3 linked regions of the Homo sapiens genome follow. The protein of the gene in region 3 purifies or fractionates together with the protein of the main gene of each other region. This does not show direct contact. Each region holds a gene or a part of one and is shown on either strand. Other genes may lie near its edges.

The links. Proteins that work in one complex are often made in the same cells at the same time.
Region 1: the proteins of IFT46 (region 3) and IFT172 purify together in Homo sapiens (affinity purification with mass spectrometry; 2 studies listed by BioGRID and IntAct, with this or other methods). This does not show direct contact.
Region 2: the proteins of IFT46 (region 3) and KATNIP purify together in Homo sapiens (tandem affinity purification; one large-scale study listed by IntAct). This does not show direct contact.

What each region holds. Positions count from the first base shown.
Region 1 is NC_000002.12:27,443,696-27,448,511, forward strand, and holds the end of IFT172 (intraflagellar transport protein 172 homolog), read right to left. Parts: intron 4,228-4,816; coding exon 4,117-4,227; intron 3,940-4,116; coding exon 3,820-3,939; intron 2,787-3,819; exon of another isoform or gene 2,661-2,786; coding exon 2,565-2,660; intron 2,294-2,564; coding exon 2,234-2,293; intron 2,149-2,233; coding exon 2,050-2,148; intron 1,755-2,049; coding exon 1,601-1,754; intron 1,411-1,600; coding exon 1,319-1,410; intron 827-1,318; coding exon 737-826; 3' UTR 682-736; downstream 1-681. Other genes in the region: KRTCAP3 (keratinocyte-associated protein 3), read left to right, coding at 254-361. UniProt on the Homo sapiens protein: Required for the maintenance and formation of cilia. Plays an indirect role in hedgehog (Hh) signaling, cilia being required for all activity of the hedgehog pathway.
Region 2 is NC_000016.10:27,748,876-27,753,691, reverse strand, and holds part of KATNIP (katanin-interacting protein), read right to left. Parts: intron 4,109-4,816; coding exon 3,386-4,108; intron 1,974-3,385; coding exon 1,768-1,973; intron 1-1,767. UniProt on the Homo sapiens protein: May influence the stability of microtubules (MT), possibly through interaction with the MT-severing katanin complex.
Region 3 is NC_000011.10:118,557,659-118,562,931, forward strand, and holds part of IFT46 (intraflagellar transport protein 46 homolog), read right to left. Parts: intron 3,981-5,273; exon of another isoform or gene 2,959-3,980; intron 2,207-2,958; 5' UTR 2,172-2,206; coding exon 2,127-2,171; intron 233-2,126; coding exon of another isoform or gene 80-232; intron 1-79. UniProt on the Homo sapiens protein: Forms part of a complex involved in intraflagellar transport (IFT), the bi-directional movement of particles required for the assembly, maintenance and functioning of primary cilia. May play a role in chondrocyte maturation and skeletogenesis.

The DNA of each region.
Region 1 (4,816 bases), on a different chromosome or scaffold from region 3:
TGGTGAAACCTCGTCTCTACTAAAAATACAAAAAATTAGGTGGGGTGGTGGGCGCCTGTAATCCCAGCTACTTGGAAGGCTGAGGCAGGAGAATCGCTTGAACCCGGAAGGCGGAGGTTGCAGTGAACCGAGATCACGCCACTGCACTCCAGCCTGGGCAACAGAGTGAGGCTCCGTCACAAAAAACAAAACAAAAAAAAGATGCTGACCTATCATTCAGGGCGAGGGTGTCTAACTCTATCTTCTTCTGCAGCTAGAGGAAATGACAGAGCTTGAATCTCCTAAATGTAAAAGGCAGGAAAATGAGCAGCTACTGGATCAAAATCAAGAAATCCGGGCATCACAGAGAAGTTGGGTTTAGGACAGGTAATGGGCCTTGAAGGTGGTGGCCCGGGTAAGAGCGGGGACAAGGAAGTGCTCTTAGAACTGGGTCTAGGTCTTGCCATGCTGCTTTCCCCTCTGACCTGGGTTGGTTCTCCCCTCTGTCCAGCAGGTGCTGTTCCGAGACTCAGTCCTAAAGGGTTTTTTTTCCCACTAAGCAAGGGGCCCTGACCTCGGGATGAGATAACAAATTGTAATAAAGTAACTTCTCTTTTCTTCTACTTGATTATGATTCCTTTTGGGGAAAAGGCACTGTGTGGTGTTGGGAATGACTTTGATCAAAGAATACAGTGGTCTCAATTATTTATAAAACTTTAATGAGGGAGAGGCCCTAACTCTTCCTCAGCTCTACCAACTACTGAAAGGAAAAGCTGGTGCTGGGGAGCCCTCCACACCACTGACTGATGAATTTCAGCACGTCCTGGCACACTGGGCTGTGGGAGGTCTGTGAGCAAATGGAAGAACATGAGAGGAACTTGTTAATGCTGGAAATACAAAATCAGCTCCATCGCAGGCTTCAGGGTCTGCATCTGCCTTCCTGTAATCCCACCCATCTTTCTAGTGTGTATGTGGGTTTTTTGTTTGTTTTGAGACAAAGTCTTGCTTTGTCGCCCAGGCTGGAGTGCAGTGGCACAATCTCAGCTCACTGCAACCTCTGCCTCTCGGGTTTAAGCGATTCTCCTGCCTCAGCCTCCTGAGTAGCTGGGATTACAGGTGCACGCCACCAGACCCGGCTAACTTTTGTATTTTTAGTAGAGACGAGGTTTTAACCATGTTGGCCAGGCTGGTCTCAAACTCCTGACCTCAGGTGATCCGCCCACCTTGGCCTCCCAAAGTGCTGGGATTAAAGGTATGAGCCACTGCACCCAGACTTGTTTTTTTTTCTTTTTTTAGTGCTGCCCTCTCTGCCTTCATTCTCCAAGTCCTCCTCTCTAACCTTGATGGCCATAAGGAATTTATTCCAGTTGTCCTTGTTAGCAGCCTTCCCTGGCCGCTTAAATTCAATTTTGTTCCTCAGAATGGGGTATCCTGTGGAGGAAGAAAAAATGATGAACTGGGGTTTGAGAGAGATTGAGGAGGGAAAAATGAGGAGCAGCCTGGGGGGTAGAAAGCACAGTCCTGTCTTTTGTACCCTTTACTGAATCCTAGTAAAATTAAGTTTATTGATCCTGCTGCTTTCTACCCACCACAGGATCTGGGGTGCTGTAGGCTTCTATACCTGTAATAAGGCAGGGCAGGGCTCGAACACCAGTGCTCGCTGCCACTAGGGAGGCCTCGTAGGCGCCACGCTCATCCCGAGGCAGAACCTGCTCCAGCCGCTGGTCCATGGAGACTGTAAGCACCCAGTCTCGAACCTCTTCTCTCTCAGCCTCCTGGAAAGGACAAGAAGGGAGTGGTAGCTTCACACAGGGCAGGGCAGGACAAGTTGGGGTGGATGGGTGAGGAGGGGGTTTGCTAAGCCCTCATCCTGTATACCAGCTTTTAGCCACGAATCCTCCTTGGATTGGGGGATGCAGTCACAGCCTTTTCTTTCTATTTTGCTTCTACTTTCACTGAAAAAACAGTGAGGGCTGAGGTCCTTCCAAAGATGGCAGCACAAAGATATTCTCCCTCCTCAAGGCACTCACACTGGTGAGGCCTTCCGGTTTTCCAACCCTGTGCCCTTACCGGTACATGCTGCTTAGCTGGGAGTGGCACCTCAAAGGGAATGTCTGTATCCTGAAAATCAGAGTGGTCAAGGCCATCTAGAGTCCCTTCCTCGATTGCCTGCAGTAGAGTGGGCAACCATGAACTAGGCACAGCTCGCGACTGGCAAAAACCTCCACCCTCGGGGCACAGCTTCCCTACTCACATCGGTCAGGTCCAAAAAGCGATTGAGGAAGATGAATGCCATGTTATCCCAGCCAACTGCCTGCAGCAAAGAAGAGTTGCAAATGGGAGTGAACAAGCTGGGTTTGAATGCTACTTCTCTGGGATCCAGATGCAAATGGGAGTGAGCAAGCTGGGCTTGAATGCTATTTCTCTGGGATCCAGGGAGAAAAATCCAGGAAGACATAGGAGGACTACATCCTCCGTAACATCAGCCCTACACTCAGCTTTCCTCTACCAGAGCAGAAGGGATATTCTATTTTCCAACCTTTAACTTCCTCCTATCTGCCCCACCCTTCCTTGTCCCAGCTCACCTTGGCAGCAATGCCTGCTTCATAGAAGGCTTTGTCTACAGGTAGTAGCTGGGTGTGACGCAAGAGTGAAACAGAAAGCCTGGCAGCCACGGTTTCCTGGGATTAAAGTCAAAGCATTATGAATATGGCACTAAAGTGACTGAGCTACCAGACCAATGATCCTGTAAGGCAGCCACAGAACTAAAAAACAACAATTATTATTAAACTGCTCTGGATTCTCAAGCTGTTCTGGGTCTTAGTTTTTTTTTTCTTTTTCTCTGAACAAGACACCTGGGCCTAGGTTCAATTCTTTCGCCCAGGCTGGAGTGCAGTGGTGCCATCTCAGCTCACTGCAACCTCTGCCTCCCGGATTCAAGTAATTCTCGTGCCTCAGCCTCCTGAGTAGCTAGGACTACAAGCGCACATTACCATGCCTGGCTAATTTTTTTTTTTTTTTTTTTTTTTTTTTTTTGAGACGGAGTCTCGCTCTGTCGCCCAGGCCAGACTGCGGACTGCAGTGGCGCAATCTCGGCTCACTGCAAGCTCCGCTTCCCGGGTTCACGCCATTCTCCTGCCTCAGCCTCCCGAGTAGCTGGGACTACAGGCGCCCGCCACCGTGCCTGGCTAATTTTTTGTATTTTTAGTAGAGACGGGGTTTCACCTTGTTAGCCAGGATGGTCTCGATCTCCTGACCTCATGATCCACCCGCCTCGGCCTCCCAAAGTGCTGGGATTACAGGCGTGAGCCACCGCGCCCGGCCAACCTGGCTAATTTTTATGTTTTTAGTAGAGATGGGGTTTCACCACGTTGGCCAGGCTGGTCTCGAACTCCTGGCCTCAAGTGATCCACCCGCCTCGGCCTCCCAAAGTGCTGGGATTACAGGGGTGAGCCACCACACCCACCCACCTAGATTGTTTCTAAGGTTCTTTCCACTTCTAGAATTCTATCATCCAAGTACATGAAATAAATATACAGTGAACAGTCAAAAATAAGCCCAGAATATGTGTACATTATAAGAGGTGAATAAAGAAATCATGGGATTTGGATGTTTAAACATAATGAGGCTGAGGCTGTGTGGGCACAGAGCCCTAAAAAGGTCGGAAGAAGAAAACCTCAGCAAGGGCTAAAGATTTGTTTAGACAGAAGAGAAGCTGAAAGACAGGTGGGGAGATTCAAGAGCCCAAGCTGAAGAATCCAGAACGTGAATCAATTCAGCTTTATACATTTGCAGATGAGCCCTTCTGACTGAGTGTTCCTTCGACCCCCTACATCTCACCAGCTGTTTGACACTCTGGGCTGCAGAGCGCGTGGCATAGTAATGAGCGATCAGCAGCATCGTCTTGAACTCCTCATGGGCTGGAGAGTTTGCCTCACTGGACTTCACCAGGTTTTCACACTAGAGGAGGGAGACAGCACAGCCTGGCTCAGGGGTCAGAGGAGTGCCAGGGCCATAGAGTGGTCTCTGATAGCCACCTGGCAGAGGAAGGTAAAATACATCTGAGAATAAAGGTTTATGTGCATCAAAGAAGAGATGAGGACAAGGACAGACGGAGCAGCCCTTTCGCTTCCTCACCAGGTTGAAGAGGACATCTCGAAGATCAGCCCAGCTATGATAGGCCTCGGCACAGTTGGTTCCAGGAGAGCTCACCATGTCAGTGAAGATCCTTTTGTAGATATTGAAGTTCTAGAGGTAGAGGGAAGAAGGGGATCTGAGAAGGGCATAGCTAGAAGAGAAAGTCACTGGAAGTGGGGCCAAAGGGAGGAGAAACAGGCTTTGTGTGTAGAAATGGGTATGTGTGTGTGTGCAAGGGCTGGGGGACAGTGGCAGATTTTTATTTTTATTTATTTTTATTTTTTTAATTTTATTTATTTATTTTTGAGACAGAGTCTTGCTCTGTTGCCCAAGGCTGGAGTGCAGTAGCATGATCTCGGCTCACTGCAAGCTCTGCCTCCCAGGTTCATGCCATTCTCCTGCCTCAGCCTCCCGAGTAGCTGGGACTATAGGTGCCTGCCACCACGCCCAGCTAACTTTTTATATTTTTAGTAGAGACGGGGTTTCACCGTGTTAGCCACAATGGTCTCGATCTCCTGACCTCGTAATCCGCCTGCCTCGGCCTCCCAAAGTGTTGGGATTACAGGCGTGAGCCACTGCGCCCGGCCAACAGTGGCAGATTATTAAGTGCTGATTATTTTTAATGAAGTAAATTATTTTTAAGTGCTGATTATTTTTGATAAAGAGAAAAGAGGAAGAAATAACTTTCTTAGCTGGTGCT
Region 2 (4,816 bases), on a different chromosome or scaffold from region 3:
ATAGAGAGTGGCTCTTAACTTTGGCTGTTCACTGAAGCAGAATCTCTAGGGGTGGGGCCCAGACATTTTTAAAGATCCACCCAAGTGATTTCCACGGGTAGCCAGGATAAAAAATCCTGGTCTTCAGAGAGTCAACGGTGGGCCACCACACCCTTCTTGGGCCTTACATATAAACTATTTGCTCATTGTCTCTTTGCACCATAAGTGAAGGCGCTGGTCTCTCACGAGACTGAGAGAGTGATCCCCCCAGCCCCTCACAGCGCTGGGCCCATCAGAGTCCCTTACGAGCACCTTTGTCATTTGGAAAACGCTGGGCAAATGGAAGCGCCCAGGGTAGACTCCCACCTGGAGACCCCTGGGTCGAATCAGGAGCACAGGCACGGCTTGTGGCCCAAAAAAGGTTTGAACACATCTGAATTCACTGCCAGCATTTTTAAATGGAGAGGTTTTACAGAAAAATCCAGCTTTCTGGCTTCTCTTGTAAAAATCAGGAGAACTGGCAACAATGGGCTTGCCCCTCTTGGTGGCCGCTTTCCTTAGATGTGGGGAGGGGGAGGGGCACGCACTCCCCAGCTGCCTGTGCCTCCCCATGCCCTGCTCCTGCACCCCATGCTCTGCCTGGCTGCGAGGTACAATCCCCAGGGAACACCATGGGGTCCACACGACATGTTGCTGTCCTGCCTCAGTCATGACCTTCCCACAGCCCAGCCCCATCCCTTGTGGCTTGTGTTGTCCCCATTTCTCCCCTACCCTGTTTAACCATCTCCTCTTTTTCCTATTGGTCCTGACTTGAATTGACCTTGAAGGTCATCTTTCATTTTAAAAGATTTGTTTATCTGGCTAAGTGTGGCGGCTCTTGCCTGTAATCCCAGCACTTTGGGAGGCCAAGGTGGGAGAAGCGCTTGAGTCCAGGAGTTCATGACCAACCTGGGCAACATAGCAAGACCACATCTCTACAAAAAATAAAAAAAAAACTAGCCAGGCATGGTGGCATGCACTGTAGTCTCAGCTACTCAGGAGGCTGAGGTGGTAGGATTGCTTGAGCCCCGGGAGTTTGAGCTGCAATGAGCTATGATCACGCTAGTGTACTCCAGCCTGGGCGACAGTGCCAGGCCCTATCTCTAAACAAAATAAAAAAATAATAAGTTGCTTACCAATTAAAAGCATAAACTGTGGAATCACGCATTCAAGTTCTACCCTTGTTTCTCTGTCACAATGTGCCCTTGGGCAAGTCACTTGACTTCTCTGAGCATCAGTTTCCGAAATGGCAATGTTAATAGTCTCTACTCAGAGGGTTGTCATGAGGGTGAAACAAGAACACTGTGTACCCTGCTTGGATCATGATATGTGTTCATGAAACCATGGCTGTGATGATCATTATTTTAACTGTAACTCTGCCTATGAAAAGCATTCCTAGTCCTTCCATCAAAAACAACAGTGAATGATCAAAACGCAACCCCAAGCAAAAACTCCCCCCAGACTGCCAACCTCTGAATTGCAGAGATGACACAGAGCTCATTTCTCCTGGCTTTGATTAGAATTTGAATACTTTCTTTACTTCGGTTAAAAAAAAATAAAAAAATAAAAATAATTAGAGAATGAAATATGACATAGAGGACAAAAAAACAAAGTAGAAAGATGGGAAATGTCAACACAGTGGCACCAGCAGCTTAAAGGATATCCATCTTAATTCTCCCTGCTCTACTCTGAGTTAGGGGAAGAAACCTATCTGGGGGTCCCCCCACAGCCCCCCAGCTCCAGTCCTACCCGTTCATCAGCCCCCAAGCCAGCCTGGGTGAAGGGCCGCTCATCCCCCTCGCCGTCGGCCGTGCTGGGCCTCCTCATTGCCTCTTCATCCTGCAGGCTGTCCAGGCTCCCCACATCCAGGTCAAACATCTCATCAGAATAGAATATGGCCTCGAGAATGTCATCATCGGTTGTGAATAAGATCGTGTCTCCAAAGTGCTCTGGGGCTAATGGGTTATCAAGATGACAGAAAGGTCAACTCACTTCACATCCCAGAGATTTGTAGATCAAGAGCCTAAACCCATCCACTTCTGTGCTGTACAACCCCACACCCTTAACTGGTATTGATTAGTGTGAGCCTTATTAGTCTTCACAGATTTGCAAATGGAATGCACGGACCATAAGCATCACATGGATCTAAGGAAGGGATCTAATTTCATGAGAATCACTGTGATATGTCATCAGGCAAGTGACATTTCTTTGGGGTGGGCAAGGCACTATGCAAGACGCTGTTGGTACCCCACCCAGATCTTGGTGGATCCTTTTCTCAGAGTGCCTTGCCTGGAAGGGTGTGGGAGTTACAGCTCCAACCCGGCAAGCCTTGGTTCCAATGACTGCCTGGTAGGTGGGGTTCTAACGCCCTGCTCCTTCACCTTCAGGCAGGAAAGACCTGAAATTTATGTTCCAGACCTCCCTCAAGATCTGGTTGTGGCTGGGCTTCCTGGAAACTATATCCTTGCTTCACTATGCCAGGTTTCTCCTAGGAGCACTCCCTCCATAAGTCACTTGCCAAAGAATGCCCCATCTCAGACTCAGGTTCTAGGGGCCGGACCAAGACAGGTGCTTTATGGGAGATGCTGAATGAGGTCAGGCCTAGCACACTCATGCTGTAAGAGGGGATGAGTGGACCGGGTCTGTGGCTGGGTGCAGGGGCTCATGCCTGTAATCCTAGCACTTTGGGAGGCCAAGGTGGGTGGATCACTTGAGCCCAGGAGTTCGAGACCAGCCTGGGTAACATGGTGAAACCTCGTCTCTACAAAAAATACAAAAATTAGCCAGGTGGGTTGGTGCACCTGTAGTCCCAGCTACTTAGGAGGCTGATGTGGGAGGATTGCTTGAGCCCAGGAGGTCGAAGCTGCAGTGAGCCGAAACCATGCCACTGTGCAGGGCAAGATCCTGTCTCCCCACCCAAAAAAAAAAAAAAAAAAAAAAAGGGCTGGGCGCGGTGGCTCACGCCTGTAATTCCAACACTTTGGGAGGCCGAGACGGGCAGATCATGAGGTCAGGAGATCGAGACCATCCTGGCTAACATGGTGAAACCCTGTCTCTACTAAAAAAAAAAAAAAAAAATACAAAAAATTAGCCGGGCGTGTTGGCGGGTGCCTGTAGTCCCAGCTACTCGTGAGGCTGAGGCAGGAGAATGGCGTGAACCCGGGAGGCGGATCTTGCAGTGAGCCAAGATCGCGCCACTGCACTCCAGCCTGGGGGACAGAGCAAGACTCCGTCTCAAAAAAAAAAAAAAAAAAGAAAGAGAAAGGACTGATCTGTTGTTGGCTAGCCAGCTGGTCTGTTTTTTCCCATAGACTCTCAGCAAGTCACAGATAGGGGCTCTGAGAAAATTCTTACAGACACGCCATACCTCCCGCCAGGGTTCCAGAGGCCTTGGCGATTTCTCCTTCAAAGATGCACTGGGTGTCTAACAGCATTGTGATGTCCTTCACGCCTCGGAAGGAATGTATCCGAGATTTATTGTAGTTCCAAATTCTGATCAGGGCAACGTGGCAAGGGTGCGTGAAGTCAATGGTGATGGAGTGGGATCTGCCCCGCGTGAAGGGGGCCAGCCAGACATGCATGTCATCCTGGGTCCTGTTCACCCCGTCGATGAGGTTGGTGACCACGCGGGGGTCTTTCCCATAGGCTGGTAAAATATTGATATCGGGAGGGTCTGCTTTTATGTTTGAAATCTGCACCGGTTCACCCTTGGAACTGAATATTTCTATTCCGTTGAGGCCGACATAGTGTCTGTCCCCCCAGGTAGACTTGATGTCAATGACCAAGCGCTGTCCATAAGGCAAGACGGGGATTTTAAAGTCACCCCCAGCGTCTGTCTCTCCAGAGTAGCCATCCTGCCCTCTCGACAGCCCTGGCTGCTCCCCCTTCTTGGAGGGGGGCAAGTCGCTGTGCCGGCTGCTCTTTTGCTGCAGGAGCTCATCCAGGATGTCCCCCGGGAGCTCCGTGTTGGAGATGCGTCCCCGGTGGGAGCGGTCGAAGGCACTGAGGGAGCTCCATGACTCGTGAAGTGTGTGCTCCTGCTCACTGCGCCACCTTGACCGTGACGGCGTCCTGGAAGACCAGGTGTCTTCTGGAAGAAAGGACACAAGAGGGGGGAAGCCCTGTGAGTGGCATGTGTGGAAGTGGGGACCATTAGAGACTGTCTCCTGTGGTGGCTCTCAGTGAGGCAGGGCCACCTCCAGGGGAGCCCTCTAGAAACCAGCGGGGTTGTTCCCGGCTGTCTCCTTAGCCAAGAGGCCTCTTGGCACTGGATGGCTGGGGCCAGGCATGTTACCATCCTGCACTGCATGGGGGCCCTGGCACAGAGCTTGGTCTCCTGTCCCACACAGCTTCTGACTGTCCTGTGGGCCATTCAGGTCGGTAAAATAATTGTCTATGATCACCCAATTCCAGAATCTGGTTGTTTTTGCAAAAACACAAAGCATTTTTTCATAGACTGAATTTTCTAAGAATGCAATCATCGTGTGAACCAAGGGAAGACTACTTGGCTGTGTTAGAAACTTTGCCAGGAGTCGCTCCCCACTGTAGAAACTCACATGACCAGGGGCAATGCTGCTGCCTGAGGCGTCTGAGTCAGCCACAAGAGGGTGTGTGCTGGAGACTGTCACAGTCACGTGACTCTAACGGTGTTTTCAAAGACAATTTAATGGCAGGTGGAAGGTTTGTAAAAGAACGTTAAAAGGAAAAAGCCAGATACGCAGCTTTAAATGCAGCATATCCTGGTACGGGTGACATGCACCCGTGTTAACAGTGTTGTTCCTGGTTTCTGGGTGGGGAG
Region 3 (5,273 bases):
TACCCCATAAATTACATAAAATGACTACACATTCTCTCTCAAGATAAACAGCTCTTTTGTTCTTGACATTATAACCTACCTTTCTGTGCTTCTGGCTCTCTCTGTACCATCCCACCCTCTCAAGTACATGAGAAGGGGTCTGGTGGCACTTGAGACTTGCAGGGGCAGGTGGAACAGGGTCCATGTCTTTGCCTCTGTGGCCTGGAGCCTGTGGCATGCCCTCCCTTAGGACCTGAAGGATGACCAATTGGCCCCCTTTAAAAGTAGGTTTTCAAAACTTGGTTTCTATATACCGTATGGCTTATACTGAGGTTAACACGTTTGATTCCAGTTGTTTAAAATTAATTTGTTTTTATGGTAAAGCAGCTATTGGCACACAAAATTGTGACACGTTACAGGACACCAAAAACTGCTTTTAGTCACATTTTGCTCTAAGAATAACAAATTTATTATACATAAAGTATATTCTAACTAAGCTGTAATATGCATGGCAGATAATGAAACACAGTTGCAGAATTTATTCAGTGACTATGCCTTATTAGTATATGACTGATAAGAACTTTCTAGAGCATTCTTTCTCAATTCAAGATTTGCCAAAATTATCCTTAGTCACATAGGAAGCAGTTTTGGCAGAGGGAACTTTTAAGAATATTGTCAGCCCGGGGTGGTGGCTCATGCCTGTAATCCCAGCACTTTGGGAGACCGAAGCAGGCGGATCATGTGGTCAGGAGTTCGAGACCAGCCTGACCAACATGGTGAAACCCCATCTCTACCAAAAATACAAAAATTAGCCAGGCGTGGTGGCGCACGCCTGTAATCCCAGCTACTCAGGAGGCTGAGGCAGGAGAATTGCTTGAACCCTGGAGGCGGAGGTTGCAGCGAGCTGAGGTCATGCCACTACACTCCAGCTTAGGCAACAGAGCGAGATGACTCTGTCTCAAAACAAAAACAAAAACCATTAAAATGCAGCCATCAGGCTGGGTACAGTGGCTCACACCTGTAATCCCAGCACTTTGGAAGGCCAAGGCAGGAGGATCACCTGAGGTCAGGAGTTCAAGACCAGTGTGGCCAACATGGCAAAACCCCATCTCTACTAAAAATACAAAAATTAGCCAGGCGAGTTGGTGCAGGCCTGTGATCCCCCAGCTACTCGGGAGGCTGAGGCATGAGAATTGCTTGAACCCAAGAGGCAGAGGTTGCAGTGAGTCAAGATCACTGCACTCCAGCCTGGGTGAAAGAGCAAGACTCTGTCTCAAAAAAAAAAAACAAACAAAAAAAACAGGCTGGGCACAGTGGCTTGTGCCTGTAATCCCAGCACCTTGGGAGGCCTCCCAAGTAGCTGGGATTACAGGCACCCGCCACCACGCCCAGCTAATTTTTTGTATTTTTATTAGAGATGGGGTTTCGCCATGTTGGACAGTCTGGTCTCAAACTCCTGACCTCAGGTGATCCGCCCGCCTCGGCCTCCCAAAGTGCTGGGATTACAGGAGTGCGCCACCACACCCGGCCAACATAAACGGTTTTTAAGAAATCATATGTGCAACTCTAAGGTCCTATATGTTTCTAGAGAGGTGGGCCTCTTGCCATGTTTCTTTCAGAAGCAGGGTGATTCTCTAGGTACACAGAATAACAGCAGCCAACATCTGGGTCTTAAGACCTCAAAATTAAAATCTCCTTCACAAAATACTGGCAGTATCACAAGTATTGACAATGAAAAAATGCCTAGACTGATAATTTCAAACTCGCTTTAGCATAAAATTACCTGGACTGCTTCCTAAAAAATATAAATTCCCAGGCTTTTACTTTTGAGATTCTGGGCTGGGACTGGGAATCCGTATATTTAAAAATAAGTACCTCAGTTGAGTATTATGATCAGGAAAGTTTGTGAAACACTGGCCTACATTATGTGAAATTCCTCACCAAAGTCAATTGTAGTAGTAGGCTTTATTCCTGAAGAAGGGTCAAAATCTCAAGGCTCTTTGTAACTGATTTTCCTCCATGAGCTCAAAGGTCCCTAACCCCTGGAGGTGAGTGTTCAAGAAATGTTTACCGTTGAACTGGTGTCATCTCTAACTACTAAAAACCCAAAGCAGAAATTCTACAAGAAGCTGTGAGTTTTACTGTACCTTGTTATTTTCCTCTTCACACTCATCACTGCTGTTATCAGCCATAGCCTTGTTAGGAAGATGGGCAGAACGAGGAAGTCCTTAGAAAAAAAGTTTTTCCTTTAGATTATTGTTAAAATGATTTTTAAAAACAAGTATTTTTTAGTTTTTAATATTTTATGCTCTAACCATTTTATAAAACAAGGTTTATTGGAACATCTGGCTAAAGAGACAGGAGACTGAATTCTAGTCATGGCTCTGCCAGTTCAATTCAAGATATATTTACTAAACATTACTGTGCTTAAGGCATTGGGTTAGACATTATACTATTCAAATTATCTGCCATTACATAAATAATATAAACTCTGGCCAGGGGCAGTGGCTCATGCCTATAATCCCAACACTTTGGGAAGGGGAGGCAGGAGGATCACTTGAGCCCAGGAGTTTGAGCCTAGACTGGACAATATGGCAAGATCCCATCTACAAAAAAAAAAAAAGAAAAAAAATTAGCTGGGTGTGATGCCATGCGCCTGTGGTCCCAGCTACTCGGGAGGCTGACGCAGGAGGTCTGCTTAAACCCAGGAGTTCGAGGCTGCAGTGAGCAGTGTCCAGTGTTCATGCTGCTGCACTCCAGCCCGGGCAACAGAGTGAGAGCCTGTCAGAAACGGAATGGGAGGGGAAGGGAGGGGAGGGGAGGGGAGGGGAGGGGAGGGGGAAAAGAAAAGAAAGAGAAAAATATACACTCTGCCCTTAGTTTACACATTAGTCAAATTAGGTTAATAACTAGTAAAGTACAGAGTGCTGAATTCATACTAAGAGTGGGTTTGAAGAAAAATTACTTAAAATGATTTTGCCTTTTCACCCCCTAGCACTGCTGGGCCGGCAGGTCTCTGTCGAGCCGCAAACGCGGGTCTCTGTTCCGCAGAATGGGGTTTATTAAAGTTGTTAAGAATAAAGCCTACTTTAAGAGATACCAAGTGAAATTTAGAAGACGACGAGAGGGTAAAACTGGTTACTATCCTCAGAAATGCTTGGTGATACAGGATAAAAATAAATACAACACACCCAAATATAAGATGATAGTTCGTGTAACAAACAGAGATATCATTTGTCAGACTGCTTATGCCCGTATAGAGGGGGATATAGTCTGCGCAGCATATGCACACAAACTGCCAAAATGTGGTGTGAAGGTTGGCCTGACAAATTATGCTGCAACTTATTGTACTGGCCTGCTGCTGGCCCGCAGGCTTCCCAATAGGTTTGGCATGGACAAGATCTATGAAGGCCAAGTGGAGGAGACTGGCAATGAATACAATGTGGAAAGCATTGATGGTCAGCCAGGTGCCTTTACCTGCTATTTGGATACAGGTCTTGCCAGAACTACCACTGGCAATAAAGTTTTTGGCACCCTGAAGGGAGCTGTGGATGGAGGCTTGTCTGTCCCTCACAGTACCAAACGATTCCCTAGTTATGATTCTGAAAGCAAGGAATTTAATGCAGAAGTACACCAGAAGCACATCATGGGCCAGAATGTTGCAGATTACATGCACTACTTAACAGAAGAAGATGAAGATGCTTACAAGAACCAGTTCTCTCAATGCATAAAGAAGAGCGTAACTCCAGACATGATGGAAGAGATGTATAAGAAAGCTCATGCTGCTATATGAGAGAATCCAGTCTATGAAAAGAGGCCCAAGAAAGAAGTTAAAAAGAATAGGTGGAACTGTCCCAAAATGTCCCTTGCTCAGAAGAAACATCAGGTAGCTTAAAAGAAGGCAAGCTCCCTCAGAGCTCAGGAGCAGGCTGCTGAGAGCTAAACCAAACAATTTTCTATAAAGATTTTTCAGATAAAGACGATAAACATATGGACAGAAAAAAAAAAGATTTAACCTCTTTGAGTCTCAGTATTCCCACCTCTAAATGGGGTCACTAATATTTCTAACCCAGGCCTCTTATAAGGATCAAGTGAAAAAATTTATGTGCAAGGAACTGACCCAGGGCCTGGCAAATAATAGTCACAAGTTTGAATCCGAATCAGTATGCAAAGATAAGAGCAATTTTTAAATATTCTGAACAATTAAAAGGATAATTAATGACAGGCGCAGTGGCTCACACCTGTAATCCCAGCACTCTAAGAGGCGGAGGCAGGCAGATTGCTTGAGCCTAGGAGTTCAAGACCAGCCTGGGCAACACGGTGAAACCCTGTCTCTACAAAAAATACAAAAATTAGGCCGGGCACAGTGGCTCCTGCCTGTAATCCCAGCACTTTGGGAGGCTGAGGCGGGTGGATCACCTGAGGTCAGGAGTTCGAGACCAGCCTGGCCAACATGGTGAAACCCCGTCTCTACTAAAAATACAAAAAAATTAGCCAGGTGTGGTGGCACACTCCTATAATCCCAGCTACTCAGGAGGCTGAGGCAGGAGAATCGCTTGAACCTGGGAGGTTGAGGTTGCAGTGGGCCGAGATCACGCCATTGCACTCCAGCCTGGGCGACAGAGCAAGACTCCATCTCAAAAAAAAAAAAAATTAGCTGGACATGGGGGCATGGGCTGGTAGTCCCAGCTACCGGGGGTTCTGAAGCAGGAGGACTGCATGAGCCCAGGAGGTCGAGGCTGCAGTGAACCGTGATCATGCTACCGCACTCCAGCCTGGGTGACAGAGCAAAACTCTGTCTCTATAAATAAAAAATTAAATTAAAATAAAAGTATAATTAGATGTAAGGCATTAACTGGAATGAAAACATGATAAATGATTTCTATATCAAATAAATGCAAATTAAACCCTTTTTTTATTTACTAAATTAGCCCAAATTAAAAACAAATTATAATATCCACAGCTGTCAAGAGCATAAACACGCTCAAGTCAAAAACCTAGGTGGCTAGGTCCCAAAGAATTGAAAACAGGGACTCAAATGGACACTTGTACACCTCTGTTCATAGCAGTGTTATTCACAATAGCCAAAATATGAAAACAACCCGAGTGTCCATTAACAAATGAATGAATTAAAAAACGTGGCATAGGCTTGGTGCGGTGGCTCACGCCTGTAATCCCAACACTTTGGGAGGCCGAGGTGGGTGGATCACAAGGTCAGGAGATCGAGGCCATCCGGGCCAACATGGTGAAACCCCGTCTCTACTAAGAATACAAAAAATTAGCTGGGTGTGGTG